Linked DNA regions of Homo sapiens. The protein of the gene in region 4 interacts with the protein of the main gene of each other region in a biochemical or structural test. Each region holds a gene or a part of one and is shown on either strand. Other genes may lie near its edges.

Region 1 (7,024 bases), on a different chromosome or scaffold from region 4:
CCGGCCTCTGTCCTCAGAGGTGAGGGCTGCCTTTCTAACCTTCCCATCTCCATCCCTGGATCTTTTTACCAGTTAGAAGCTGCAGCAAGGATGGCAGCTTCATTCAGCACCTAACTGCCTGTACCCCACCCACCCAGGAGTCAGGCAACTCCTCAATCCCTTTTTCATTCCTCAGGGAAAGCATACTGAGTCTTCTTTGACTTAAAAACAAAAAACCTCACCAAAATAGGCTCTGCTATTTCTTCTCTTCCCACCCTGGCCCGCCCCCCATTCCTGACAGTGCCTTACATCACAAACTAAGTCCTCTTAACACAGCAGGCAGCCCACCTGCCACTCTCCTCTCCAAGGTTTCCCTACAGGGGTGAGGAGCAGGAGGAGTAAATAACTTAGTTACAATACCATTGAGACGAAAAATAATACTGCTATTTTTAACATGATCCCCTGTATCTTTCAGGCTGGGTCATGTTCCCAGCCATGGGCAATGTGCCCTTGTGCTGTGTCCTCCTCCTCAGGCAGGGCAGAACCCTTCTCCATGCAGGCCCTACATTCCTCTGCCCTGGCTCCAGGGCCAAACTGCAGGGGCATCTAGCTTCTCACCCTGCCCAGCTGTGGTTTTAAAGCTACAGGACAATGTAAACTTTGTTTCCCTGGCCCAGCAAGGCTCCTCCTCCTCCTCCACTCTTAGGAATGTCAGTAGCTCCTTGGAGTCTCCTGTGCCACTGGCTGAGGCAGCCTCTCTCTCCAAGGGGCTTCGGCCATGGTCCTGGCCCCACAAGATGGAAGGATCCATCTCCAGAAGTCAGGGCCAGATGTGTGTGCTTAATGCGAAACACAGTACAGTTTTTGCCTTCATCCAGAGCTGGGGCATGGAGGCCCAAAACAGTAATAACATCTCATTAATGGCTTGGTTTCTGTCTAGCATTCACTGCTGGAATCCAGGCTTCAGGCTGCGAGACCCGGAAGGCCGCCACAGGGGGCTGCTTCCAAAGAACCCAGTTCGCGGCATTCTACAAGGCGCACAGCACCTGCTGCTCTCCAACGAGGCTGGGGTACAACTAGAGGCGGTTGTCTCCATTGACCCGAGTCCTTCTTGGGGCCCTGGACAGAAGGGAAGAGTGTCCTTACTGGCAGGCAGGGCCTTGCAGCCCAATGCCAGACAATATTACAACTTTTCTACCCAGGAGAAAGAAACACTGAAGAAGGAGGACCTAGCCACTGCCTTCCTGGCTCTAGCACCCCTCCATCTTCCTCACCTTCGTTCTCGACTGTCAAAATGGTCTGCGAGATGCTCCTGGGAGATGCGGAAGTCCTCAAACGGCTGCTGGTAGCGGGATTCAAAGGAGCCTTCCCGGGCTCGGCCATGAAACAGCTGGCCTGAGGCATCTGAGCCCCGCTCCCGCAGGGACGTACCACTGAAGGGACTGAGGTCACCATTCTCCTGCTTCAACGAAGCCAGGTGCACAAGAGGGTCAATGACTCCTCTGCACTTCTAGAGGCTGCTGCCTGGCTCTCCTCCCACCTACCCCAGGCCAGCCCACCCCTGCTGCAGATACCTTGGCAGGGAAAATGTCAATCTTGATCAGCAGGGAGGCCAACTCCAGGTCCTCACTGTAGTTGTTCTTCAAAGGCACTGCTCTGTATCCTAGGAGGAGGAAAAGCCTGGCCCTCAGCCCACGAGGGACAGAGCAAGGGGCCCAGCCCCACCCTGCCAGCAAGATTGCAGGGGCACTGCCTCCAGGAATGGTCCTCACCTGTCTTCAGGCCTTTTACTGGGAAAGTAGCCTGAGCCAGGAAATTCTGGTCACTAAACATGTCTTCCTCATACACCACGAAGCGCAGAAAGGCAAATTCAGGGTTACTGATCTGGAAGTGGAAGGGCTTGGCTGGCCATACAGGGTTGAGTCCATTGTCCACTGTGAAGGCAACGACAAAAGGCTTCAGGTCACCGTGGGAGAGGATGGGATGACTGGTGGGGAGAGGCTTGCAGTGCCCCAGCAGGATGAGGAGGATGACTGGGAAGACAGACTGACCCACAAACTCTGTCTTCTGCTTGGTGCTGTCATACTCAGCTCCAGCCACCTCAATCTCCACAAAAGGACACACAATGCCTCGGCCATTCTTTGGCAGATGTCGGGCCCCCAGCACCTGTAGGCAGACAAAGAAGGGCCTGGGATTGTCCTTCCTGCTCCCTCCAATTCCCCACTGCGGAGGCTCAGTCAGCATCTGTGGAGTGGAGGCAGCGCGCCCTCTGCTGGGCCCCCGGGACACTGCCCATGGAGTCCCTCACGACATCAGGGACCCTAAGCTGTCCAGAGCAGCTGCTGCCTGTAGTTTATCTGAAGTCTGAGCTTTAGCCAAAATTTCCATGTGAGTTTTGCAATCTACTTCATGTTAAATCCATTACTATTTTAACACAGAAATCTTTTAAATGACCTCCCCTTAGGGAAAAAAAAGATCTCATCAGAACAAAACAAGTCATCAGAACAAGTCACACCATGGCTCTGCACGTCCTAGATGCATACAGTGACTGCATGCTATCTTCACCCCTTCAAAGACTCAGCTCAGGCCCCACCCACCCTGACCACCTTGATGCCTGAAAATACCTACTTTTGGAGAACTCAACATAAACAGACTCCAACGGCAAGCAGCCCCTTTCCTACCCTGAAGCCCAGATGAGCAGCACCCACCTCAATAGAGATGGCACATGGCTCCAGCCCGCGGAGGCTGCTCTTGTCAAAGGGGTCGAAGGCCTCATCCCGCATGGTGCTTGGCTGCAGCACGTAGCCACAGTGCCTGCCCGTCATGAAGAGGGCCTGGTTCATCTGCATAGGCTTGTCTGGAAGAGGCAGATTATGGTGTATTCCAGTCCAGCTGCCCCACAGTGCCCCTCCTCACCCTCCTCACAGGGGACTTCCTCACCAGGGGTCTGGAAGTTGAGGGCCACAAGCTGACTGCCACAGATCCACATGGGCAAAGGATCGTAGTTGGAGGAATCCAGTCGCTGGCCCTTGGGGTAGATGCGGGAGAGCTGCAGTCGATTGTACTGAAGGAACTTCTTGCCTTTGGCCTTGTTCACGTATTTCTCAGCCTTGGTTTCCGGGAAGGATGACATGTCCCGGTAGCAAGCACGTTCTGTGCCAATCTCTGGGCCAAACAGGGAAAACACTTACAGAGCCCGCCCACCCAGGAAGTGTTGGGGGGATACCTAAATACTCTTTTTGCACCCACCAGGCCCTCCAGGCACATGCACACCCCGCCTGGGCCCTGGCCCTTACTCTCTTCATCAAAGGGAACAGGCCGGCAGTAGACGACAAGTTCAGAGAGCTCCAGGGCAATCTTCTTCCTCCGTTCCATTATCTTCCCTTCAGTGAGCTGGTGACACACACAAGGCCCTGTAGCCCCAGGCTACAGCCCTGCCCAGGAGAAGGAAGCCCCTGCCAACCTTGGGCATGCCCACACTGCAGGTGCTCTGGGCCCCTCTCCCACCTTCCCCTGTACCTTCCAGACACCACACCCAACAGTAAATGAGGGAGCTCTGTCCTCAGCCTCATCCTGAAATCATCTTTCCTCTTTTCTGTCCCAGAGGACACATTTGCCCTCCAACCCTCTTAGGGGGGGTGGGGGATACAGACTCCTCATCACCACCCATGTTCCCAGTGACCTTCCAGGGATCCTGGAATTGGCCACACTCCCAAATGACACTTTCTGACCATTTATTACCCAGCCTCATGCTGGGGTAAAAATGATTCTTCTGTGTTACCTGTGACTGCACTGGGGATACAGGCCCCTGGCTTGGTTTCCATCTGTGTCCTAAGGATGATCCTCACTGCCTCAGCGCCCCCAACTCAAATATAACCACCCACTCTTCATGGCAAATCTCCATGCCAAATCTCTACAGAAGCCCACTTACAAGCACCCCAACCCATCCTCTCCTGGAGGACTTTCTTTCAGTGGCTTTTTTTTTTTTTTTTTTTTTTTGAGACAGAGTCTTGCTCTGTCGCCCAGGCTGGAGTTCAGTGGCGTGATCTCGGCTCACTGCAATCTCCACCTCACGGGTTCAAGCGATTCTCCTGCCTCAGCCTCCCGAGTAGCTGGGATTACAGGTGCCGGCCAACATGCCCGGCTAATTTTTGTATTTTCAGTAGAGACAGGGTTTCACCATATTGGCCAGGCTGGTCTCGAAGTCCTGACCTCAAGTGATCTGCCCATCTCGGCCTCCCAAAGTGCTGGGATTACAGGCGTGAGCCACCACGCCCGGCCTCAGTGGCTCTTACATTCAGACTCTTCCCTTTTCAGCCTAGACCCCCAGATCCAGTCCTTCAACCACCTGGTATGCCAGCACCTTTTCCTTCTAGGGGACAGCCTGGCAAGCACCCTATCCCTTCTCTATTTGGCTTGCGGGTGCCCTCTCCAAAGCAGCTACAGACCCATCTACCAAATGCACTTGGTGAAAGGGCCACCAAGTAGGAATTCCCTAACCCTTGAGAATACTTCTCTGTTCCCCCAGGCTCAGGGGAAGAGGCCACCTTCTCCAGAAGGCTGGTCCTACCAGCTAAGCTTGGGCTCCATCTCCTCCCACACGCTGCTCGCTCCTTTCAGCCATCTGCATGAGAGCCTGCTCAAACCCCAGTCACCTGTTCTCTCCCTCAAGGACAGGCCCTACAAAGGCTCTGCTTTTGCCATTCCAGACTCCCTGCTGCCCACTGCCATCTAATGCCAGCCATGCTGCTGATGCAGCTCAAAAGTCTCACAAGGGCTATTAGCTGCTGCTGAATCCAAAGGGCACTTGCAAGTTCTTATCGTTCCTGTCTTTACCTCTGTAGCTCTCAACACAGCAGACCCTCTCCCTCACCAGTGGCCTGCAGTCTGTCTGACCTGCCTTTCCTGGGCTCCTTTCCTCGCCCATGCCTTCTCATATGGAGCTTCTCAATCCATCCCAAGTTCTCTTCCTATGCGACACCACCTCATCCCTTCTATGCCTCAGCCCCCACTCCACTCCTGCTTCCAGCCCAGGACTTCTCCTCTTACCTCTGGTCTTGTGTATCCAATTGCCCACTAAGCAGACCCACTTCAACGACCCATCAGTATCTCAAACTCAACACAACCTAAACACACCACATTGCATCTTATGTGTCTGTTTCTTCTCAATCCCTAGCTAAGGCAGGGGCTGTGGCCTATCTAGCATAGGCCATCGGCTGCCCCACTGCTCTGAGGGGGCCTGTGCTGGGAGCTGGAGGCCTCAGCTGCCTGACGGGCCCACACACTGCCCCCCAGAAGGTTCCAGCAGAATCTCACCCTGGCGTCTGCTGTCTGGGCCACTTCACGGATCTTTTTCACCCAGTCCTGCAGCTCCTCCTGTGAGTCGGCAGCAACATCCAGGGACCAGTGGGCCACCGACGCCATGCTGATGGAGAAGACGAAGAGCCGGTTGTTCTTGCCCTCAGGACGGATGGCTGGGAGGGCGAGAGCAGATAACAGCTGGGAATAGACATCTCACCCCCTCCACCCCACTCCACACCGCAGGCACTGGCTCAAATGAGTTCTATCTCATCCCATTTCCTCCTTCCCACACCCCATGAGGGGAAGGACTACTCTGCTGGCCCATTTGACAGATGACGACGCTACAACTCAAACAAGTCACTGCTGGTTGTGGTGGAGCCAGTGTTCCAACTCAGCTCTGACTCATGCTTCTTCCTCAGGCCGTGTCTCCCTCTCCACCCCATCTCCAAGCCTCTGTCACATCCCTGTGGTACAACCCATTAGGCCTGGGGATGTCAGCCAACCAGCAGCATCAACTTTGTTCTGCTGATTCTGACGGGTTCCCCAGTGCCTGGCATAGGTAAACATGCAGGGGTCAAAGCTGACAGTGACAAAGGGAGCCCAGGGTGTCAAGGGGATGTCCAGAGCATGGGGAGAGCTTGGAGTGAGGGCAGACTTTGGGGTTCAGCCATCAGCTTCCTCCCTAGGAGCAGGAAAGAGATACAAAGAAGAATCTCACCCTAGGGAACAGTGGGCAAGAGAAACAGATGGGAGCTCACCAATCTGACAAGCCGGCACATCCAAGACCCCCCGCAGCAAGTCCCCTAGGGGGCTGTTCTCGTCCAAGTGCTGTGGGAAGCAAAGCCCACCAATGGTCAGCATGGCTACTGCATATGTGTGTGAGGGGATATCCGTGTGCATGGGACAAATACATCTTGTGGGTGTACCTGTGACTGCCAAATGTAGCACAGGTATATGGGAGACTACGTGCATGGCCACATGGGCTGTGCGACCAGCCCATGTGACAGGTGTCTGTGCATGCACGTGCGTGCTTGGGACTGTGTGATGGGGGCATGCCAAGGAGAATCTGGGAATAGGGAATGCTGTTACTCAGGTGGTTCTGGTCTTACCTCCCTCTCCGGCTCCAGGGCCACGGGGTTGACCATCTCTTCCACGTAGTTTGATGGGAACCACAGCTGCTTCTTCCCTCCGTAGTCCCCTCGCCACCTGTGGGAGCCACAGGGTGCTGACCTCCAGCAACCACCCCGAACTCCCATGAGGAGGGTATCCTTTGGTAGGGGTTCCCATGCCTAAGCCAGGGTGAGGCAGGCACTGCTGGTGCACACAGGAGACAAGCACATCACAAATGCATGTCTTTGGGGCCCCAGCTCCACTGGGGCCCTTGGACTCTGGGCCTACCACACCACTGGCTTACCAGCCTCCCTCTTGCTTCTCCACATTCTGGATGATGGCGCTCTTGATGAAGGTCAGCTCGTCCTCCCTCTGGGCCTTGTAGTCAAAGAGGGCTTTGACTGCACACTGCAGAGGTGAGAAGCACCAGTCAGAGCAGAAAGGCTCTCCCTGCCACTGCCAACCTGGGGCTTCATGTGCACACACACATGTGCTTGGGCTTCCCTGCCTGGGGTCAGGCCAGTGGGAGATGACACTGCCATCAACAGGCCCTAGTTATAGTTCTTGTTACTGCCCTGCAGGGAAGCTCCAGGACAGATATGATCAGAGAGGCAGGGCCTCTGCCAGTGAAATA
Region 2 (5,870 bases), about 100 Mb from region 4:
CATAGTCAATGCACCTGGAGACAGGGATGCACCGAGGGTAACCAAACCACGTTCAATGCGCCTGGAGACAGGGATGCACCGAGGGTAACCAAACCACGGTCAATGCACCTGGAGACAGGGATACACCGAGGGTAACCAAACCATAGTCAATGCACCTGGAGACAGGGATGCACCGAGGGTAACCAAACGATGGTCAATGCACCTGGAGACAGGGATGCACCGAGGGACCAAACCACGGTCAATGCACCTGGAGACAGGGATGCACCGAGGGTAACCAAACCACGGTCAATGCACCTGGAGACAGGGATGCACCGAGGGTAACCAAACCATGGTCAATGCACCTGGAGACAGGGATGCACCGAGGGTAACCAAGTCATAGCCAGGATGTTTCTCACAGTGTAGCTTCTCATTACTTTGGTCTTTGCACCTTTACCAAGTGCACATGAGAATTATTAGATGAGGGAGGGAATGTAGAAATGGGATGCAGAAATGAAAAATGTAGACATGAACACCTGCCTCATGACATTTAAGGCTTGCTTTTATTTTAGTAAACATCACTGGGCAAAACAGCCCATGTCTCAAGGACAAAGGCTTGAAACAGATATCATACACAAAACGGTGTGTGGTCAATACAGTCAATACTTACTGTACTTCTCAGAAATTAGGGTCATGTGCTATTTATGTGTGTGTGTGTGTGTGTGTGTGTTTAGTAAAATACACAGGACGATCTATGAGTAAGTGATTATAAAGTGGTTAGTCCTCACATGGTAACCACTCACCGACTGGCAACTGAGGACTGCTACCCTTATGATCTCTTCTGGCTGTCAAGATTTTATAAGTAAACAAAAAATAAATATTAAAAAAGGGAAAATATATTTCGTTCAAAGATGGGAAACAATGGATTAAACACAGTTAAACAGGCTATTTACTAAGACTTAGTAGTCTTTACTATACTAATGAAAGTTGTAAACTGCCAACTACTTACTACGTTGCATATTCCATATATCTAGTTGGCCTCTATATGGATAGGACAAAACCAGGAAAAGGTAAGGAAGTAAGACAGAACACATAGGCTCATTTTGTTTCTTTGTTTTCCACATAGTTGGAGGCAGGGCAGAACTGCAGGTGTCAAAGCACAGGAAAAGGGTGCTTGCCTGAAGAGCAGTCTGAAGACAGAAGGCCCTGGACACTAGACATCTCTGCCAAGTTGAAAGGCTGAGGAAAGGATGCTGAAGATACCAGCCCTGAATAGGAATCTATGTCTGGAACTGAGGAACCATATCTTGAAGTGTGCAATGTACAATAATCCATGCACCAAATCAATTTATGCTCACCCCATTTAGTAGTTGCCAGTGACAATGAAGACATGAGTGGAAACCTGCAAGTTTTTTTCCAGTTTCATACTACCATACCACCTATCACCAAGCATTTCATAAACCATACAACTTTCAAGTCAGGTGAAACTTAAATTACCAGAAATCTGTATTAAGACCAGTAAGAAAAATAAAACCATTGCTCAAAGGCATTGGAAACAAGAGGCAGAGAAGGCTCACAGGTATCTTCCCTTTTTTTGTCTTTTGAATTGACATATGCTTTTGCTAAATGAAAATCATAACAGAAAATTTTATCTTTCATTTTCTCAGAGTCCAAGAAATAAATCTTGAGCACACACACACATAATTTTCTCCCCAAAATAGCCACATTCTTTTATTTGATGATTCAATACATTTTTGATTCAAATAGTCACCACATAACCTAGGCACGATATTAAGCATTTTACAAGCAAAATATTTTACTGATTTTCTTTTAAATTGCCAGAGTACAATAAGTGAACTGGTTAAGAGACATACTTCTGTACATAAAAATATCCATGTATTTATACAAGTGTATGGAACAGAGTTTAAGATAATAAAACCACAACATCACAATAAATAGGATGTGTTCCTACTGCACAGCACAGCACGCTTTATCAGGAAGCTGCCAAGTCTTTTTCAAGGTGCTTTATGTTTTTCTGAGCTAGGCTCAGATTTCCCCAAAAAAGGAATAGGTTAGTAATGGCTGGATCTGAATGTCTACTTTCATAAGTTGCTTTTTATTTTCATCTCCAATAACAGGAATGGAAGATATGATAATTTAATTATTTTCAAAAAGTCTTTGCAACTTACCAATTCTATTCCAATTCAGTTTTTTAAAATGCAGATTAATCTAACTCTAGCACCATACGAGAATGAAATACATGTATTTTTGTCAGAGCAACAATATTTTATATCATCTTTGTTCCTCTGGCTATAACAATTGTGTTTAGAAAAATTTACCAAGCTAAAAATAGTTGATCTAAGTTGTCATAAAAAAGAATATTAAATACCTTTGGTAAAAATAGATATATTTAACAAGATTAGAAAAGCCAACAGTTATAATGTCAAAAGGAGAATATAAAAATGTACACAATGAAACAAATAAACTGACTTATCGATAAAGTGAAGATAAGGCCACTCTTCTTTTCAGGTTTATCTCTTCCAAACCATGAATGTAGTTCTCTTCTTCTAAATGGCAGAAATTTTAATAAGAAATATGAAAAATCCAGTCTGTCCTATCAGCACGACACAAGTTTAATTCATAGCAACATAGTTCCTTTTTAAAAACCAGGTTTGTAGTACATAGAATGTTCTGGTTTACATATGTGAATATGAGCAAAAAAAAAAAAAAAAATCCAGATTTTATACGATTTTAGGCCCAGGACATGGAGCTTTAGAGTTAAGCAAGGCAACGGAATCAGGTGCTCACTTGCACAGTTTTTTTCCTGTACTGACATTACCCTAAGCCGTATCGAAAGAACTGAAATACAGAACCCAGCTAGTGGAATACGTACATGGTAACTCTGAAACTAGCTGGTGATCTATTTAATACAACATTTAATTTTCTTTCCACGATTGAAGACCTTTTCTCCTGTCCTTTAGGCCTCCTCTCAAAAGAGCTGTTGCACAACTCCTAATTCTGTTTGATGTCTCCTCTTTCAGAATGCACTGTAAATCCTGAAGATGAAAGGTCCTTGAAGCAAACAACTGAGATTAAGGATGGAGATAACGCATACGTTCTCTAATAGAATCAGCCACTGCACTGCACAGCTCTGGGCAAGAGCTGCTGGTGGTGATGCGGCTATCCTCCTGTGCTCCCTCTGCACACACAGTCACACTCCTCATGGTGCTCCAGGGCCACGTCGGTGAGTGATTTGTGCAATCCCCTGACACCGGTCTTTGGTCTCAACTGAAGGACCTGAAAGGGAATAAGAGTAAGCCACTTTTAAAAATCAACGAATGTCTATGACTGGCTTTTATAAACAAGTAACGTTTTAGAAAAGAATCTTGGGGCCCAAGAAAGACACATATTTTAATTTTTCCTAGAGCACGCATTATGAAAACACTCTCCCACCAAAAAAAAAAAAAAAAAAAAATCATCATTTCATGAAAGCACAGACATTTTAATGCCAACAATTTGGAAGCATTCTGTCTCTGAATAAGGAACAGTACTTAAATGGAAAGACTCACCACGCAATTGTTATTTTATTTATCTGACTATTTTAGAATTTCACCTTAAGTATTTTGGAACTACCAATATAAAATTCGTTTTTCTGTTTGTCGCTTTCTTTCATTCATTCATTTATTCACACATTTAACAAATATTTATACTTGATGCAATACACTCAAGTGCAGAAATACTGTGGAAAGAAACATGATCACTCCACAGCTGAGTCTGCTCAATTATGCCACTCATTAATTTTCTTGGCTACACTTCAAGTCCTCTATAAACTTGATGAGATGGATTAGATGTACTTCATAGACATCAGCCCCAGTCACAGCTAACTTCCTGCAGCTGGATCCTACTGTGCAGTGAGAAGAGGTTTGGCAATAATAACAATGATGCCTCTATTAAATAAAGTTATCTGCAGTTCAGATTGTCAAGGTTTTAATAAAAATACAGCAAGATTGACACTTATGCTACACATATTTCCTCTTAATACTATGACAAAAAGATGCAGTTGTGTATTCTATAAAATATTAATTAAAGTATTTGGTGTTGCTACCTATTTAAGTGTATTACATTTTATTTCTTATGATAGAAACAATAAAGTTTAGGAAATTGTATTTTGTTTGGATTATGAACAAAGGCCAGAGCACAAAATAATATGAAATTTTCTAGCATCTCTACTTTTTGGATACGACATAGATAACCTCATAAAGCCATTTCTAAAAGCTACCAGTCCTAAAAATGTTCATTAATCCAAAAAGGCACAAGTCAAGTCTTATGACTGTTCTATTTAAAGACTTAAAAGAAAAACAGAGAATGCATACCTCACTGGAGTATGTGGTAATATCAGAGGTTAATTAGCTAACATTTTTTGAATGCTTACTGGGTGCCAGGCACAATAATAACGTTTTTACATACTTTAACTCACAAGAATTCTATGAAGTAATTTACAATTATTACCCCTATTTTACACATGAGTGAACAGAGGCTTAGACAGAGTAAGTGACACAGCCTTTATTTGTACCTAGCCCAGAGATGAATTATTAGAGAGATAGATAATAATTTTATAGACTCAGAATATCACTGCTCATACATTCTATTTATTTAGTAACTTTCTTCCTGAAGAGATAAACTTCAAAGTCTTGTAATAACTATTAGAAATTCTAAACTTTTAAAGTAGTTTTCTCATCTATTTCACAATTCTAAAATAAAAATTACTTTGACTTTATTTCTTTAATGTGAAATTTAACTCAATGGCTACTGAATACTATTTTATGTTAGTACTGATTTATTATTTTTGAAAAATTTAGTGTGTCAGACTAACTACATTTCAGATATTGGCACTATTCCTTATCACAGTCTTGCTGCAAATTGTTTCTGGAATGAGATTGGGTGGGTGGGTAAGATAAATTGCAATATTGGCATAGACAACGTCTTCAATTCCTATGTCCACCTGTATGCATTTTCCCATTCAGCAAGGAAAAAAAAATTACTATGTAAGGTAAAGATTAGAGAGGCCACCATACACGGTCCTAACAGTCAGGCCAGGCTGCAATCCTTGCTTCCTCTAGCATGCATATGCCAAGATGCATTTGCTGAATCAAAGTCTCCTGTCTTTGTCTGCTGATGCTCATGGAGATTTACAAATAGCAGAAGAATCTCTTATGTTCTAGAAACTTAAGTCCTGGATAAGAAATTCTAATGGTGGAGGACACAATTAGTGTTCTTGTTTTTAATTCATTTTGAAAGTTTTGACTTTGGTGGAGAAAAATAGACTTGGAAAATGATCAGCAGGTCCCAGACAATATTAAAGAGGAAAAGGACATAGATTATGCCACCAGAAAAGAAACAGGGCTAATGTTCATCTCAGAAAATTTAGACGGAGAGGTTGAAATTAAAATGATAAGTCCATGAAAAGGAATGTCCAGGGAGAAGCTGAGCCAGAGATTGTGGAAGATAGTAGATAAGACACAGAGAGAACCGGCAAGGAACAAATGCTCATGGACCATTGCTCAACACGTTCAAACAAAATGACCTTGAACTTTTGAGAACCACAGAGCACTGGGAACAGGGATTCAGCACTAGAATCAGGCAACTGAATGCTACAGATTTTTAGGTTTGTCTGTGCAAAACAAACAGACATAATGTAAGAATGTAAGACTATTATTTCATAAAAAATTAAATATGTAAAAATATAAACAAGATGAAAATTATTAAGCCAAGTAAGAACAGAGAAAAAGGAACGAATATTTTACTATTGTCAGAGTATCCTGTAGATCTTTTGGCCAGAATACCTTTCCTGCTTCAGGGCAAAATTCATTAAATCTTTATTGATCATTTACCAT
Region 3 (7,822 bases), on a different chromosome or scaffold from region 4:
TGTGCGCGCGCGCGCAGAGCCTGCAGTAATAACCATCACTGTGATGACCAACATCTGTGGGGTGCTCACTCCAGGCTTTATCACTTCAGGTGAATTAACTCATTTAACCCAGTGAGGTAGGGACTATTGTCCCTACGACTTACAGAGGAGGAACGTGAGGCTCAGGAAGGTTAAGGAATTTGCTTAAGGTCACAGAGTTAGTAGATGGTAGGGCAGGGCTTTGAACCCAGGTGGTCTTTGACGGGAAGCCTAGTCCCTTGCCCTCTCTCAGCCTCACTTTCCTCATCTGTACAATGGGCATATACGATGGCAATGCCTTCTCCCTGGGCGACTGTGAGGGTGAGGCAGGCAGAGGGGAAGGAAGTGCTTTGTGGACAGCCAAAGGCCCTGTAGACAGGGAGGCAGGGGATGGGGCAGCAAGGGGCATGGGGGAGCTGATGAGGGCCACGCGGAGTGGGGTAGGGCTTGGAGTTTCAGACCATTTGTGGCATGGTCTTGGACGGTCTCCAGCTTAGAGCCTCACTTCCTCTCCATCAAGTATGGAGAAGCAGAGCTGCCTGGCCCAGGTGTTGCTGGCCCCTCTCAGTGGCGGGGAGGCTCCCAGTGATCATCGCTCTCACCTTTCTGGACTTGAGGGCGTGAGTTTGCCCCCGGGATGGAACCCAACTCCTTCCTTGGTATTTCTTCACCCCAGCCAGTGTCCTGGACCCCCACGCCCAGGGTGTAAGATGCTCTTCATGGATGAGGGCTTGGATAGCTCTGAGCACACAGTCTAAAAAGCCCCCAACCTTGGGCAGCACCCCCATCCCCCACGGCTGTGGCCACTCTTTTTCCCTTTGGCTCAGATCTGTCCTGGAGTGGAGGGTGGAGAGTTACGGGGGTGTGGGCGCCCCCATCCCTAGCTCTGCTGGAGAACCTTATTTCCCAGTGGCCTGAACGCGAAGATGGGCGGGGGCCTTCCCAGTTCTCTCATTCAAGTGCTCCTCAGACCCAGCCCTGATGAAGTTCCGAGGTCAGATGAGACCACGTGCATTCAGGGTGGTGTGGCTTCAGACCCTTCCCAGTTCTGATACCTCCAGAAGGGGTGCCCTTCAGGGGCCCTGTGCTTCCAAGCTTAGAGGCTCATGCTACAAGCCCCTCCCCAACTCTTTCCACCCTTTAGGAAGGGCCTGGCATCTCTGCAATAACTGGTCAGGACTCAGAAAGAGAAATTGGCAGGATTTTAATCATTTATTCATTCCTTCAGCGAGCGGCACTTCCTGAGCAGCCACTGTATGCTAGGAGCTGGCAGGAGGCCCTTGAACACTCTGGACTCAGTCTAGTGCTAGATTGATGATCAGGCCATGACGATGCCAGGTGTGCATGCTGTGGAGCCTGGAACAAGTGCCAAGCCTGGTGGGCCTTCTGGAGGAGGTGCCTGCTACACCCAGCCTGGCAGGAGGCAGACGATCAGGTGTTATTAAAAAAAAATTTTTAGGCTGGGTGTGGTGGTTCATGCCTGTAATCCCAGCACTTCGGGAGGCTGAGTGGGGCAGATCACTTGAGGTCAGGAGATCGAGAGCACCCTGGTCAACATGGTGAAACCGTCTCTACTAAAAATACAAAAATTAGCTGGGCATGGTGGCAGGCGCCTGTGGTCTCAGCTACTCGGGAGGCTGAGGCAGGAGAATCGCTTGAACCTGGGAGGCAGAGGTTGCAGTGAGAAGAGATCGCACCACGGCACTCCAGCCTCGGCGACAGACCGAGACCCCGTCTCTGAGATGGCTCACTGCAGTCTTGAACTCCTGGGCTCAGGGGATTCTCCCTCCTGACTCAGCCTCCTGAGTAGCTGGGGCCACACTCAGATATATATATATATATATATATATATATATATATATATATATATATATATTTTTTTTTTTTTTTTTTTTTTTTTTTGGTAATTTTTTTTAAGAGATGGGATCTCGCTATGTTGCTGAGGCTGGTCTCGAACTCCTGGCTGCACATGATCCTCTGGCCTCAGCCTCCCAAATTGCTGGGAATACAGGGGTGAGCCACCGTGCCTGGGGAGGTGTTCTTTACAGACTGTTCCTCTGCACAGAGAAGGTACAAGAAAGGAGCCCTTAGCACAACATTCAGGCCCAGGTGTCACGCAGGTGTCACGTAGCATTCAGGCCCAGGTGTCTGCTGGGCCCTCTTCTGCCACTTCTAACCCATGTACTGGCACCTGCACTGCAATGATTTGGGTCTATCTCACTGAGAGCATGGGAAGTCCCTGAGTGCCGAGGCTGGGACTCCTTCCTCATTCCATTTCTCAGCGCTTCACACAGGGTCTGCAAACAGTAGGCGTTCTACGATGCTGCTCTGAGTAGCCTTCCCTCTCCCTCAACTTGTACCTAAGTCAGAGTTCATATGGGTCCATCACTTTTTAGCTGGCAGAGCAGGTTCCCACATATTAATGCATGTGGCGCTCACCAAAGCGCTGTGTCAAAAGTGTCATCATTGTCATCAGCATCACCTGCCAGAAAATTGCACAGCACGGTGGTCTCAGCATGTGGGCTCTGTAGCTGGACTGCTCAGATTCAAGTCCTGGCCTTACCACTTACGGGCTGTGTGACCTTGAACAAGTGTATTGGCCTCTCTGTGCTTCCATTTCCCCATCTGTAAGATAGGAATAACACATCTCACAGGAGCATGGAGAGGCTACAGGTAGAGTAAGAAAAACACTAGCTACCACATAGTCAGCTCACTAATCATGGTAGTTGTTACCATTCTATTTATAGAAGACACAGAAGGTCAAGGTCAAATGACCCAGCTGTCCGGTGGAAGAGGGTTTTTATCTCTGAGTCGTTAGACTTCAAATCTAGTGTTTGGGGGTTATCTCCTCGTCCCGCTGCCCCATCTCCCTTGTCACCCTGTCTCCTAATTTATCTGTTTATACATCTGGTTGTCCTTCTCAATGGGGCTCTTCAAAGGCAGGGGCCTGCATTAGGCTGGTTCACACCTGTCTCCCCAGTGCCTGGAGCAGTGCGGGGCCACCAGTGAACTTGAAGGCTGCATGGAAGGTTCCAGGCGCTTGCTTCCTGCTAAGGTGTTTTGCTGAGCGCCTCCACATGGAGGACCTCATGGGAGCCTCCAGACCACTCCAGGAGCAGGGTAAAAATTCTCTACAACTGCACTGAGGTACAACAAACTGCACACATTTTGTTGTGATGTACGTATACACCCATAAGCCCATCACCACAATCAAAAATGACAAACATTTCCATCACCACTAAAATTTTGCCATGCCTCTCTGTTCTCTCTCACTCCTTCCCATTATAGATTTATTTTTATTTCTTTAGAGATAGGGTCTTGCTCTGTTGCCCAGGCTGGAGTGCAGTGGCACAGTCACAACTCACTGCAGCCTCAAACTCCTGGGCTCAAAACGATCCACAGTCTCCTGAGTAGCTGGGACTACAGGAGCTTGTTACCACACCCAGCTCCAGTTTATAAATTCATCTCCAGTTTATAAAGGAGGAAACCGAGGTACTGAGAGGTTAAAAAACCTTCCTGCAGACACTTGTCCAGCAAGTGGCCACTCCAGGATTTGGACCAAGGTGATGTGTCTTCAGGCTGTGTCTCTGCCACTGTGCCACGCTGCTGGGTGGTAGGCAGCAGTGGGTGGGTGCCTGCAGTGGTCTGTAAAGACCACCTGAGATGTCCTTCCTCCTCTGTTCCACCCTGTCCAGGTCCAAGAAGACAGTCTATGAAGAGAGAGCAGGTGTGACTCTCTCAGTGTGCTCCTCTGTGAGAAGCAGGCTGACATCCCAAAGGGAAGGGCGGATAACAGAGACAGTGCAAGCGGAGGAGATGAGGGTGCCTCAAAGCCGGGAGGCTGGGTGATGCAGGAGCCTGCGTGTCCCGAGGGGGGTGCTGGGCCCAGTGTGAGTACGTGTGACTGTGACTGAGACAGTGTGACTGCTGAAGGCAGGGACACAGCAGCTCCCTGACTGGGGGCAGAAGGCGTTAACTGTGTGAAGGCTGGTTGTGGGTGGGTGGGCTCTGGGCCTCGAACCCGGGGGCTGAGGGAGATAGTAAACAGCAGGGTGACTGACGGGAAGATCATGTTGGTAGCCCTGCGAAGATGCTGCAGGGCTGTGGGGGTTTGTGTGACTTTGCAGTTCAACAAATTCAAATTCAGCCAACGCTGGCAGGGCCTGTTGTGCCAGGCAACCAGCTAGGAGGAGGAGACTCGGACCCAGCTTGCAGCTGAAGGGCGCTGGCTGCCGGGTTCTGTGGGTTCACCTTGCGGTGTCTTCCCTTGCTAACACTGAGTCCTTACAATAGCCCCATCTCCAGGTTGAGGCTAGATGGAGGGGACAGAGGGAAGTGACTTGCCCAAGGTGACCCAAGCTCCCGAGTGCCAGGGCAGGATCTGAATTCAGGCTCTCAGACTGCAGAGCCTGAGTCCCTCCCTGCCATGCCTGTGCCAGGGTGGAAATGTCTGGTCCTGGAGGGGAGCGTGGACTCCTGGCCTTGGCTCTGGAGACATCCCCCTAGACCACGTGGGCTCCTAACCTGTCCATGGTCACTGTGCTGAGGGGCGGGACGGTGGGTCACCCCTAGTTCTTTTTTCCCCAGGGCCAGATTCATGGACTGAAGGGTTGCTCGGCTCTCAGAGACCCCCTAAGCGCCCCGCCCTGGCCCCAAGCCCTCCCCCAGCTCCCGCGTCCCCCCCCTCCTGGCGCTGACTCCGGGCCAGAAGAGGAAAGGCTGTCTCCACCCACCTCTCGCACTCTCCCTTCTCCTTTATAAAGGCCGGAACAGCTGAAAGGGTGGCAACTTCTCCTCCTGCAGCCGGGAGCGGCCTGCCTGCCTCCCTGCGCACCCGCAGCCTCCCCCGCTGCCTCCCTAGGGCTCCCCTCCGGCCGCCAGCGCCCATTTTTCATTCCCTAGATAGAGATACTTTGCGCGCACACACATACATACGCGCGCAAAAAGGAAAAAAAAAAAAAAAAGCCCACCCTCCAGCCTCGCTGCAAAGAGAAAACCGGAGCAGCCGCAGCTCGCAGCTCGCAGCTCGCAGCCCGCAGCCCGCAGAGGACGCCCAGAGCGGCGAGCGGGCGGGCAGACGGACCGACGGACTCGCGCCGCGTCCACCTGTCGGCCGGGCCCAGCCGAGCGCGCAGCGGGCACGCCGCGCGCGCGGAGCAGCCGTGCCCGCCGCCCGGGCCCCGCGCCAGGGCGCACACGCTCCCGCCCCCCTACCCGGCCCGGGCGGGAGTTTGCACCTCTCCCTGCCCGGGTGCTCGAGCTGCCGTTGCAAAGCCAACTTTGGAAAAAGTTTTTTGGGGGAGACTTGGGCCTTGAGGTGCCCAGCTCCGCGCTTTCCGATTTTGGGGGCCTTTCCAGAAAATGTTGCAAAAAAGCTAAGCCGGCGGGCAGAGGAAAACGCCTGTAGCCGGCGAGTGAAGACGAACCATCGACTGCCGTGTTCCTTTTCCTCTTGGAGGTTGGAGTCCCCTGGGCGCCCCCACACGGCTAGACGCCTCGGCTGGTTCGCGACGCAGCCCCCCGGCCGTGGATGCTCACTCGGGCTCGGGATCCGCCCAGGTAGCGGCCTCGGACCCAGGTCCTGCGCCCAGGTCCTCCCCTGCCCCCCAGCGACGGAGCCGGGGCCGGGGGCGGCGGCGCCCGGGGGCCATGCGGGTGAGCCGCGGCTGCAGAGGCCTGAGCGCCTGATCGCCGCGGACCCGAGCCGAGCCCACCCCCCTCCCCAGCCCCCCACCCTGGCCGCGGGGGCGGCGCGCTCGATCTACGCGTCCGGGGCCCCGCGGGGCCGGGCCCGGAGTCGGCATGAATCGCTGCTGGGCGCTCTTCCTGTCTCTCTGCTGCTACCTGCGTCTGGTCAGCGCCGAGGTGAGTTGCCACGGCGGCTGGGGCTGGTTCTTCATTCATTACCTTCGCCCCCCCCTTCTGACCGCCCCCTCCTCTCCCTGCAGTGAACTTTGGACCCTTGCAGCCCGCGAGCCTGACGCCGGGCGCTGGGTGACCTCTTCGGGCTGGGAGCGAGGTCCGGGGGTGACAGGCTCTAAGGGAAGGCAACAGCGGTGGCTTTCTTTCCAACCGGCGGGCGAATCTGGCTCCCTAAGCCGTTCCGTGTCGGGGGAGGGTGTGTGTGGCCCTGTCCCCCACCCTTTGGGAACCCGAGAACAAGCCCCTTCCCGGCCGGGGGAGAGGGGGTGGGGTGGTGCCCAGGGTGCAGAAGGCAGCGCGTCCTCCCGAGCCCACTTCGGCGCCAGCCTCGGCTTAGGCTCTGTCCTGCCATCGGCTTGCCCAGGAGGTGCAAGCTTGCGCACCGGTGCCATCCACGCCGACCTTTGACGGGGCTCGGGTCCCACCCTGGCTCCCGGTCGGGGTCCGGGTGGACGCCCTCCGGCACGCGCAGGGCATGCCCGGCCCCAGAGCACGGTCTGGAAGCAGCTTGTGTCTCGGGCGCGGGGTTTGGGGTGGGAGTAACAGGGAGAGAGAGAGAGAGAGAGAGAAAGAGAGAGAGAGAGAGAGAGACGGAGAGAGAGACGGAGAGAGAGAGGGAGAGAAAGATAGAGACGCAGGTAGGTTTCGGGCACTCGGGTAGGGGGAGGACTAGGGGCTCTGAAGGAATCCAGCCCCCGGGGCGCTGTGTGCCTGAGGCCTTGCCGTACCTGTGCCCGCGCCCTGCAGGAGGAAGCACCTCTCTCCCCCGCATGCAGGGTGCGGAGCGCGCCGCCTGCAAAAGCCTAGCTGCACGGGAGATGGGGTATAAAAACATCTGAGGGAGCGCTGGGGTCGGAGCCGTCCCCACCCCTCCCAGCCTCACGTAGCCGTGAGTTGGCAAGTCTACCCGGAATCCAGGTGGGAAAGGGGGCGGGGCAGGACGACGCGCGCGGTGGAGGGGAGGAGAGGGCAGCCGGGAGCGCGGCGTGACTGGGTACCGTCCCACCTCCGCCCGGCTGCGGCCGGGAGTCCGCACCTCGCCCGCACCTCGCCGGCTCCCGGGGAGGGTCGGCCCCTGCGGCCTCCAGCCAGGCGCAGGAAGGAGGCAGCGGCGGCGAAGGGGTTAAGGCGGAGGGCTCGGAGGCCGCGGCCCGGCCTTGGGCTGCCGCCAGCGCAGGTTGTTTTGACCACGGAGGAGCCGTCGCCGTCTCCTTTTGTTCTCGGGGCTCCTCGAGGGCCGCAGGCCGCCCGCCCGGGGGCCCCGCCCTTCCGCGGCCGCCCCCCGCGGCCCGCACCCGGGAGGGAGGACGCGGGGCTCGGCCGGGCCGCCTTCAGGCCCCTCCCGACGCCCCCTCTCCGCCTCTCCCGCAGCCCCCCGGGCCGCGGCCAGCTGTTGGGGAGGGGGTGGCCGGCCGGCCCCAGCTGCCGCCTCGCCTCGCCGTGGGACCTGGGGGCTGGGCCCGGTGCCAGGGCGTCCTGGGAACGGCGGCGCCCCGTGGCTGCTCTCCGCAGCCCACCCCGCCCGGGCCCCCGACTCGCTCACTCACCCCACGCATGCACACTCCTGGCCGGAGGCGATGCTGCGCTCCGGCGGGCGGGCGCGCAGAGCGACGGGCACGCACTACCGCGGCCAGGTCGCGCGCCCGCCTCTGCCACGCCCGTGCACACGCGGGACACACGCGCGCGCACCGCACACAAACGCACGCACGGCCCCTGCACGCGCGGCCTGAGCACACGTGCGCGCACACCCACGCACGTACACAGGCACGCACGGGCCCCCGTGCACCCAGCGCCTGGTGCTCGCCCCCGCGCAACAGGTGGGCCCTCCGTGGGCCCTGGCACCTCACCACCTCTGTAGCGGCCCCATTTCCTTCCTGGCGTC
Region 4 (7,024 bases):
TTGAGTGAGTATACCTATAGTTATTTCTTGATTATACGCTCAACAAGCGGTAGAAGATTCATGAGTTTTCCCTGAAAGGGACAGGTAATTCCCAGGACTGAGGGTTCCTCCCCTTTTTAGACCATATAGAGTATCTCTGGTCATTGCTATGGCATTTGTAAACTGCCATGGCACTGGTGGGAGTGTCTTTTAACATGCTAATGCATTATAATTAGTGTGTAATAAGCAGTAGGGATGACCAGAGGTCACTTTCATCACCATCTTCGTTTTGGTGGGTTTTGGCCAGCTTCTTCACTGCATTCTGGTTTTGCTGGCTTATTTATTTATTTATTTATCTATTTTTGAGACAGGGTCTTATTCCATCACCCAGGCTGGAGTGCAGTGGCCTGATCTCAGCTCACCGCAGCCTCCATCCTCCCATCTCAGCCTGCCACCCAACTGCCCCTCAGACCAGTAGCTGGGACTATAGGCCTGCACCATCATGCCCAGCTCATGTTTTTAAAATTATTGTTTGTAGAGACAAGGTCTCACTATGTTGTCCAGGCTCATCTTGAAATCCTGGGCTCAAGCAATCTTCCTGCCTTGGCCTCCCAAAGTACTATGATTACAGGAATGAGCCACCAAACCTGGCCTGCAACCTGTTTTATCACTGGGGTCTTTATGACCTGTATCTATCAACTCCTATACCAACTCCTTTCTCTCCTGTGACTACAAATGTGTAACCTCCTGGGAATGCAGCCCAGCAGGTCTCATCCTCTTCTTACCTAGGCCCTATTCAAGATGAAGTCACTCTGGTATGAACTCCTCTGATGCTAACTCATACAATGGAGTGAGCCTAATGGGACACAATTTGTTCCATCATTGGCTTTGGAAGCTAAAATATGTGTGCATGTGATTCCTGAGTAAACTGGTTTAAAAAAAAGAAAGAGTGAGAGAGAAATTCAATGTATTCATATATTGCTGTGTTTAGCCCTAGTTGGGTTTGGTTTGGTTGGAGGGGATCCAGGATCCAGAAGATAATAGCCTAATCAAAGTTTTTGGTGGGGCCTAATCATGTATTTCTACCGTAAGGTGGCCTACTTTGCAGAAATCAGATTTCTGTTTTATTGAATGCTACCAGGAAAATGGGAGAGGAAGAGAACACAGAGAAAAAGGTGGAAGGCTCCTCACAGGAAGGGGAGTGGGGTATGTAGAAAACAAAGTAAGAGAAGGAGAAACCATTATTTACTAAGCCAAAGTTTGCATGTGCATGCTGTGTTTGTGAAGAATAACCCTGTGATTACTTAGAGCTGATTTTAAGAAGTGGCAGTTGAGGCTCAGAGAGGTTTTGCAAATGACCCAAAGTCACACAGCCAGTGACAGAGCCAGGATTTGAACACAAGGTCGTGTGATACAAACGCCATGCCCTCTCCACTTCACCATATGGTCTCTCTCAAGGGAAGGTCAGTGTTTTAGCCATATCCCACCCCTGTGTGCCACCTACTTGCCTGACTATTTCCTAGGGCAAATTATACCTCCTCCTTCCATTTTCCTCCTTTGCTCACCACAGCAGGAGAAACACAATTACAGTGCTGTGAACCCAAATGCAATTCACACAATGCTGGCTGGCTGATGGCCTCCGAGGATCCTGACATGTGCCTGGGATGCAAGGCTTCCACACTGCTGCGGTGGCAGGCACAGTGGGCCCCAGAGCCAGGCTGGCCAGCCTGATTTACCACAATTAGCAGTAATGCTTGTGTGTTTGTACATATAAATATCAGCCTCCCACTGACAATCCACTCAGCAAACTTCAAACAAGGCCTCCAGAGCCAGCTTGATGTCTTTGGTTTTATCACATTTAGAACCCATATTTCTTTGGCAAGACTTGCCAAAGATGCATCTTTAAAGCTTTCTCCAGCTTAAAAGAAGGGCTCACTGCTTTTCCTGTGCAAGCTCTAAGCAGTGCTTTGCCCTGGCCAGACACTCCCAGATTTCCTTCAGTGCCTCCAGATACAGTGGACCCTCTGCCAGGAAAGATTATTTACTGACATATAAAGTGGCCAATGAGGCCGGGCGTGGTGGCTCACATCTGTAATCCCAACACTTTGGAAGGCTGAGGTGGGCAGATCACTTGAGGTCAGGAGTTCAAGACCATCCTGGCCGACATGATGAAACCCCATCTCTACTAAAAATACAAAAAATTAGCCAGGCATGGCGGCAGGTACCTATAATCCCAGCTACTCGGGAGGCTGAGGCAGGAGAATGGCTTCAACCCAGTAGGCAGAGGTTGCAGTGAGCCAGGATCTCGCCACTGCACTCCAGCCTGGGTGACAGAGCAAGATTCTGTCTCAAAAAAAAAGTGGGCAATGGAAACAGGTCCTCTGAGCAAGCCATCAGGAAGGAAGAGAATAAACATGTGTTTGTTGCTTAAGATTCCAAACCCCAATCTCTGATAACAGTGGTTCCCTGGGTAGAAATCAGGCCTGTTTGTGAACTTTCTTTTTTTCTTTTTTCTTTCTTTCTTTTTCTTTTTTTAGATGGAGTCTTGCACTGCCGCCTGGGCTGGAGTGCAGTGGCATGATCTCAGCTCATTGCAACCTCTGCCTCCCAAGTTCAAGCGATTCTCCTGTCTCAGCCTCCCGAGTAGCTGGTATTACAGGTGCCCACCATCATGGCCAGCTAATTTCTTGTATTTTTAGTACAGACAGGGTTTCACCATGTTGGTCAGGCTGATCTCGAACTCCTGACCTCGTGATTCACCCACGTCGGCTTCCCAAAGTGCTGGGATTACAGGCGTGAGCCACTGTGCTCAGCGTGTTTGTGAAGTTTCATGTCATTACTTATCTATAACTCAGACAGTTTACTCATGAATAATGGCAGTGCTTGCCCCACAGGGAGGTAATGAAGAAAAATGGGAAACATGGGGAATTTCCTCACCTATTAGACCTGTAGTGAGGCTCTCTGGGAGTGAGTCTTGCTGTTCCTGCCACTTTTATCTACTCTAAATGCTCATCCTTAATTAGTAACTGCTATTCTGGAGCTCATCTAAAGTCAGGTGTGCAAATATAAGTAACTGAAACTACAAATTCTGAGAAACATGGCACCATAAGAATCCGTGAGAACAACCCCCTTTGCAGGGAAGAACACTAGATTTCACCCAAATCTTTTCTTCAATCATAATTACTTCCCTCATGCCAACTACATGTTGAACTTCAGCCCCCATTCTCAATAATCACAGCTCAAAAAACATTTGCCATAACTTAGAGGAACAAACTGAGAAAGAGACCCCCCGCCCTGTTGACTCTCAGGCAGGTGACTTGTGCTTTTCCACCATCCTCTTGGCCTTCTTATGCTTTCTCTCAGAAGAAAGGATGGAAATCACATTGGACTAGCCACTGATCCCAAATCTGATACTCTATCCAACTCTCTGAACCTCAGTCTTTTCTTCTAGGAAGCACGACTACCAAGGCCTGACTGGTTGCTTGCCCTGTGGCATTCTTGTAAGGACTAAATTATATAGTTTAATTGAAAGTGCTTTGATTTTCACGACTTTTTCTGCAGACTCCCAAGATATTTTAGATCGGCTCCTTCAACTTCTCCTTAACTAAGAAAGTGAGGGATGCCCCAGAAGCCACATGACTTGCCCTGCACCTCCTACCTCCTGGAGACATGGATCTGAACTCTGATTCAGCCCACACCAGCAGTCCACTCCCATGACCCTGTTACCTCCAGCCTGGTGTGGCTATAAAGACCATTCAAAGATGAGCCAATATATACAGTCACAGAAACAGAGAAACAAATGACTTTGCAGCTACTATCCTTTCTCTTTAACAGGGTGCCATCTCCTGCCCTGCAAACAGAAGTAAAGAGCCATTGGACATGACTCTATAACCAAAGGCAATGTGCAAAGGTAGTGTAAACAGACAGTAGGCAATGCAAGGCTCTATTTCCAGAAGGACTAACAGCAAGACATTCTTCTCCTAAAGCCAGAGAGTTGGCTTCTCAATCACCAATTGCACAGTGCATCCCATTGCAGAACCACTGAATATTGAATTTCACCCCACCCTCACATGATTAAAGACCACAGGAGACTCTCTCACAGCCCCAAAAGCCACTGGTGACTTCAAGATTCAGATTTCCGAGGCTCAGTTAATTTCAGCTCTCCTAAGTTAATTCTAACTGTGAAAATTACACATTTTCCTTTTTCTACGCAGTCTCCTAACTTCAGCCCAGGCAAACCAAGTGCAGGTCTACACTGGTGGAAACTTCTCCCTGTTTTCCAGCAGAGGGTGTGTTTACCAGGACCTCTGCACCCTACCAGAGCCTGTTTTGTTGTTTTGATCTCCCGGAGCTCCATCAGACATTCCAGTAATGGGAGGGGGCTGGAGTGTTTTTAAACAGGAGCCTTTTATGGGACAATCTGGGCTCATAAACATGCCTGCTCTCCTCTCACCATATATTTAACCACGGGAGAATAAAATGACATATCCTTTTGAATATCACCAAACGGGTGTGACTCCTAATGGCACAACCTTAGGAGTAGCAGTAGCAGTTTGAGCATTCGGCTTGAGGTCACCAAGGCCCCGACATAGGTCTCCTCACTCAGAAACGGGAACATCAATGCCCCCCCACTACCCTCCTCACAGGCCAGCTCTGATAATAAGATGTTCACTATGTAAATGCAAAGCATTAACAACCAAGGAGAAACACAACACAAATTTCCACGAAATAAAAATGTTGTCTTCCAGCAATTCTTGTAGCCTCACAGCAAAAGAAAATCAGTCACCTATTACGGTCCTACTGAGCAAAAAATAAATAAAAAATAAAAAATAAAGCACCTTCCTAATGGTCTCCGCGAAGCCCATTCTCACAGCGGGTCGCAGTAGTTCTTACGAGTGGCCAGCAGATGGCAGTGTTGGTCCAAGGACGTGCGTCCACGGGTTGCGACACAGACGCCGCTGCGAGGAATTCTGAGCTCCACTACCCCAAATGTTAATTTCCAGTCTCTTCCTTCCTTAGGTTGTACTTTTAGCTTTCGTGGTGACCTCAGTTGAAAGCCCGCGGGGTTTAAGCAGAAATAGGAAAACTGCTGTTGAAAATGGCTAAATCTCCTCGGGACCCCAGGAGAATTCGGGGACATCTCCCCATCATCCCCATCATCATCCCCATCACCGGGAGCTGGTGCGCCGGGGCAGCGGGGCTTCGGGAAGACGTCTTCGGAGCCGGGAAGACGACGCTGCTGGGCTAGGCCGCAGAGGCTCAGCCGGACTCGCTACTAGGGTTCTGTGCAACCCACGCTCTCGCCACCTCAGCATTTCCGCCCCCTCGGGGCAGGGGGACCGCCTGGACCTCGACGCCGTTCCCGGGCCGCGCTGTCCTATCTGTCCGCGCGCCACCGCCGCCCCCATAAACCAGCCTGGCGAGGGCCGCGACGGCCGCGCAGCTGATTGGAAACGACTGTTACCGTTGCACAATAACGCAGGGTCGTAAAACAAACAAACAGCAACAGGCCGCCCGCGGGGCAAGGGAGCTGGCGAGGGGCTGGAACGCAGAAGACGGCGCCTGCCCCCCAAGAACGCACGGGACCCGTCCTCCTCCACACTCCCCTGCTTCTCCCACATTGAATTACAAGGACGTCCCATTCTCAATCCAAACCCAGAGACCTCGGCCCCCTCTCGTCCACCCGGCGCCTCCCGGGCCCACACAGAGCCTGCGAGGAGTCCACTGGCTGCCCGGAGGAGGGGAAAGGTGACCCAGATTAGCCTCCGCTCCGGGCCCCCGGGGTTCCAGCGCTGCGCTCCACTGAGATAGCGGCGCCGACCGCCCGGGGCTGGGGAAAGCGGGATGCGTCCCCGGAGCCCACTAGAGGGCGCGACAGCCCCGCGAATCTTACCCGGCTCGCCAGCTAGCTCGCCCGCAGCCCAGGCTCCTGGTCCCCGACAGCGCAGCCGGGAGTGCTGCGCGCAGACTTCGCCCGGGAGGCTCTGCGCTCGGACTGTCCAGCCCCCGCCACTGTCCGGCTTCTGACCCCGGGACCCAGAGGAACACTGCGCGGTCCGCTCTCCCTCCCACCTCCACCAAGTCCTCGGCGGCTTGGTTGTCCCGGGGTTGGCGGCGATGCCCAGCCGCTCCGGGGACCTGCGCCCCTGCGCCCCTGCGCGCCGCGCTCTGAACCTCAGAGCTGCAGAGGCCGCTGCGCCCCAGGCACGACGCTCTGCGTTTGCATTGTTTTCAACTGAGACCCGAGAGGGGGCCGGGCGGGTGTGGAGAGAGGGGGGAGAGCGGGAAGAGAATCCGGGCGGGTGGGGGGAAAGGGGCCGAGGGGTTTAGGGTTACAGGAGCTCGCCAGCGCCTCCTATGGGCACGAGAGCCGCACGGCCGTGGGTAGCGGCTCACCGGGAATGCTGAGGAGAGCTAGCATGCGCCCTCTCGGCATTTAAGAACCGTTCCTGGCCGGGCGCGGTGGCTTACGCCTGTAAATCCCAGCACTTTGGGAGGCCGAGGTGGGCGGATCACCTGAGGTCAGGAGTTCGAGACCAGCATGGCCAATATGGTGAAACCCCGTCTCTACTAAAAATACAAAAATTAGCCTGGCGTGGTGGCGGGCACCTGTAATCCCAGTTACTCGGGAGGCTGAGGCAGGAGAATCGCTTGAACCTGGGAGGCAGAGGTTGCAGTGAGCCGAGATCGCACCACTGCACTTCAGCCTGGGCGACAGAGCGAGACTCTTGTCACACACACACACAAAAGTGCCTTCTGGTGCCACCTTGCCCGACACGCGCCATAGCCGCCTCTGCCCCCTCAAGAGTCCGCGCCCACCCGCGCTTGTCGCTCCCCTTTCGCGGGGGCCGAGAAACTGCAGTAGGAGGCAGGGAAGGAGGCGCCCCAAGTCGGGTTTCCCATTATTCCCTCCTACAATCTACTTTTTCAGCCCATCCCAGGTTCGCTCATTGATCAGTTTAAAACAAAAGGAAATGCCGCCGAGCCACTTCAGCAAACGACAACCATCTGGCAGAACCCGAATTAGGGGGAAGTTGGGAGAAGC

What was found.
Region 1: the proteins of PDGFRA (region 4) and PLCG1 form a complex in vitro, tested with the Homo sapiens proteins (2 studies listed by BioGRID, with this or other methods).
Region 2: the proteins of PDGFRA (region 4) and PDGFC form a complex in vitro, tested with the Homo sapiens proteins (2 studies listed by BioGRID and IntAct, with this or other methods).
Region 3: the proteins of PDGFRA (region 4) and PDGFB form a complex in vitro, tested with the Homo sapiens proteins (3 studies listed by BioGRID).

The regions. Positions count from the first base shown.
Region 1 is NC_000020.11:41,168,541-41,175,564, reverse strand, and holds part of PLCG1 (1-phosphatidylinositol 4,5-bisphosphate phosphodiesterase gamma-1), read right to left. Parts: intron 6,799-7,024; coding exon 6,695-6,798; intron 6,543-6,694; exon of another isoform or gene 6,487-6,542; coding exon 6,390-6,486; intron 6,109-6,389; coding exon 6,039-6,108; intron 5,454-6,038; coding exon 5,296-5,453; intron 3,373-5,295; coding exon 3,276-3,372; intron 3,145-3,275; coding exon 2,920-3,144; intron 2,837-2,919; coding exon 2,688-2,836; intron 2,146-2,687; coding exon 2,031-2,145; coding exon of another isoform or gene 1,914-2,030; coding exon 1,752-1,913; intron 1,643-1,751; coding exon 1,554-1,642; intron 1,442-1,553; coding exon 1,254-1,441; intron 1,099-1,253; coding exon 1,056-1,098; 3' UTR 1-1,055. UniProt on the Homo sapiens protein: Mediates the production of the second messenger molecules diacylglycerol (DAG) and inositol 1,4,5-trisphosphate (IP3). Plays an important role in the regulation of intracellular signaling cascades.
Region 2 is NC_000004.12:156,759,934-156,765,803, forward strand, and holds the end of PDGFC (platelet-derived growth factor C precursor), read right to left. Parts: intron 3,274-5,870; coding exon 3,157-3,273; 3' UTR 521-3,156; downstream 1-520. UniProt on the Homo sapiens protein: Growth factor that plays an essential role in the regulation of embryonic development, cell proliferation, cell migration, survival and chemotaxis. Potent mitogen and chemoattractant for cells of mesenchymal origin.
Region 3 is NC_000022.11:39,241,962-39,249,783, reverse strand, and holds the start of PDGFB (platelet-derived growth factor subunit B isoform 1 preproprotein), read left to right. Parts: upstream 1-4,801; 5' UTR 4,802-5,820; coding exon 5,821-5,883; exon of another isoform or gene 5,884-6,858; intron 6,859-7,822. UniProt on the Homo sapiens protein: Growth factor that plays an essential role in the regulation of embryonic development, cell proliferation, cell migration, survival and chemotaxis. Potent mitogen for cells of mesenchymal origin.
Region 4 is NC_000004.12:54,232,292-54,239,315, reverse strand, and holds part of PDGFRA (platelet-derived growth factor receptor alpha isoform 1 precursor), read right to left. Parts: intron 6,217-7,024; exon of another isoform or gene 5,873-6,216; intron 5,357-5,872; exon of another isoform or gene 4,845-5,356; coding exon of another isoform or gene 4,818-4,844; intron 1-4,817. UniProt on the Homo sapiens protein: Tyrosine-protein kinase that acts as a cell-surface receptor for PDGFA, PDGFB and PDGFC and plays an essential role in the regulation of embryonic development, cell proliferation, survival and chemotaxis.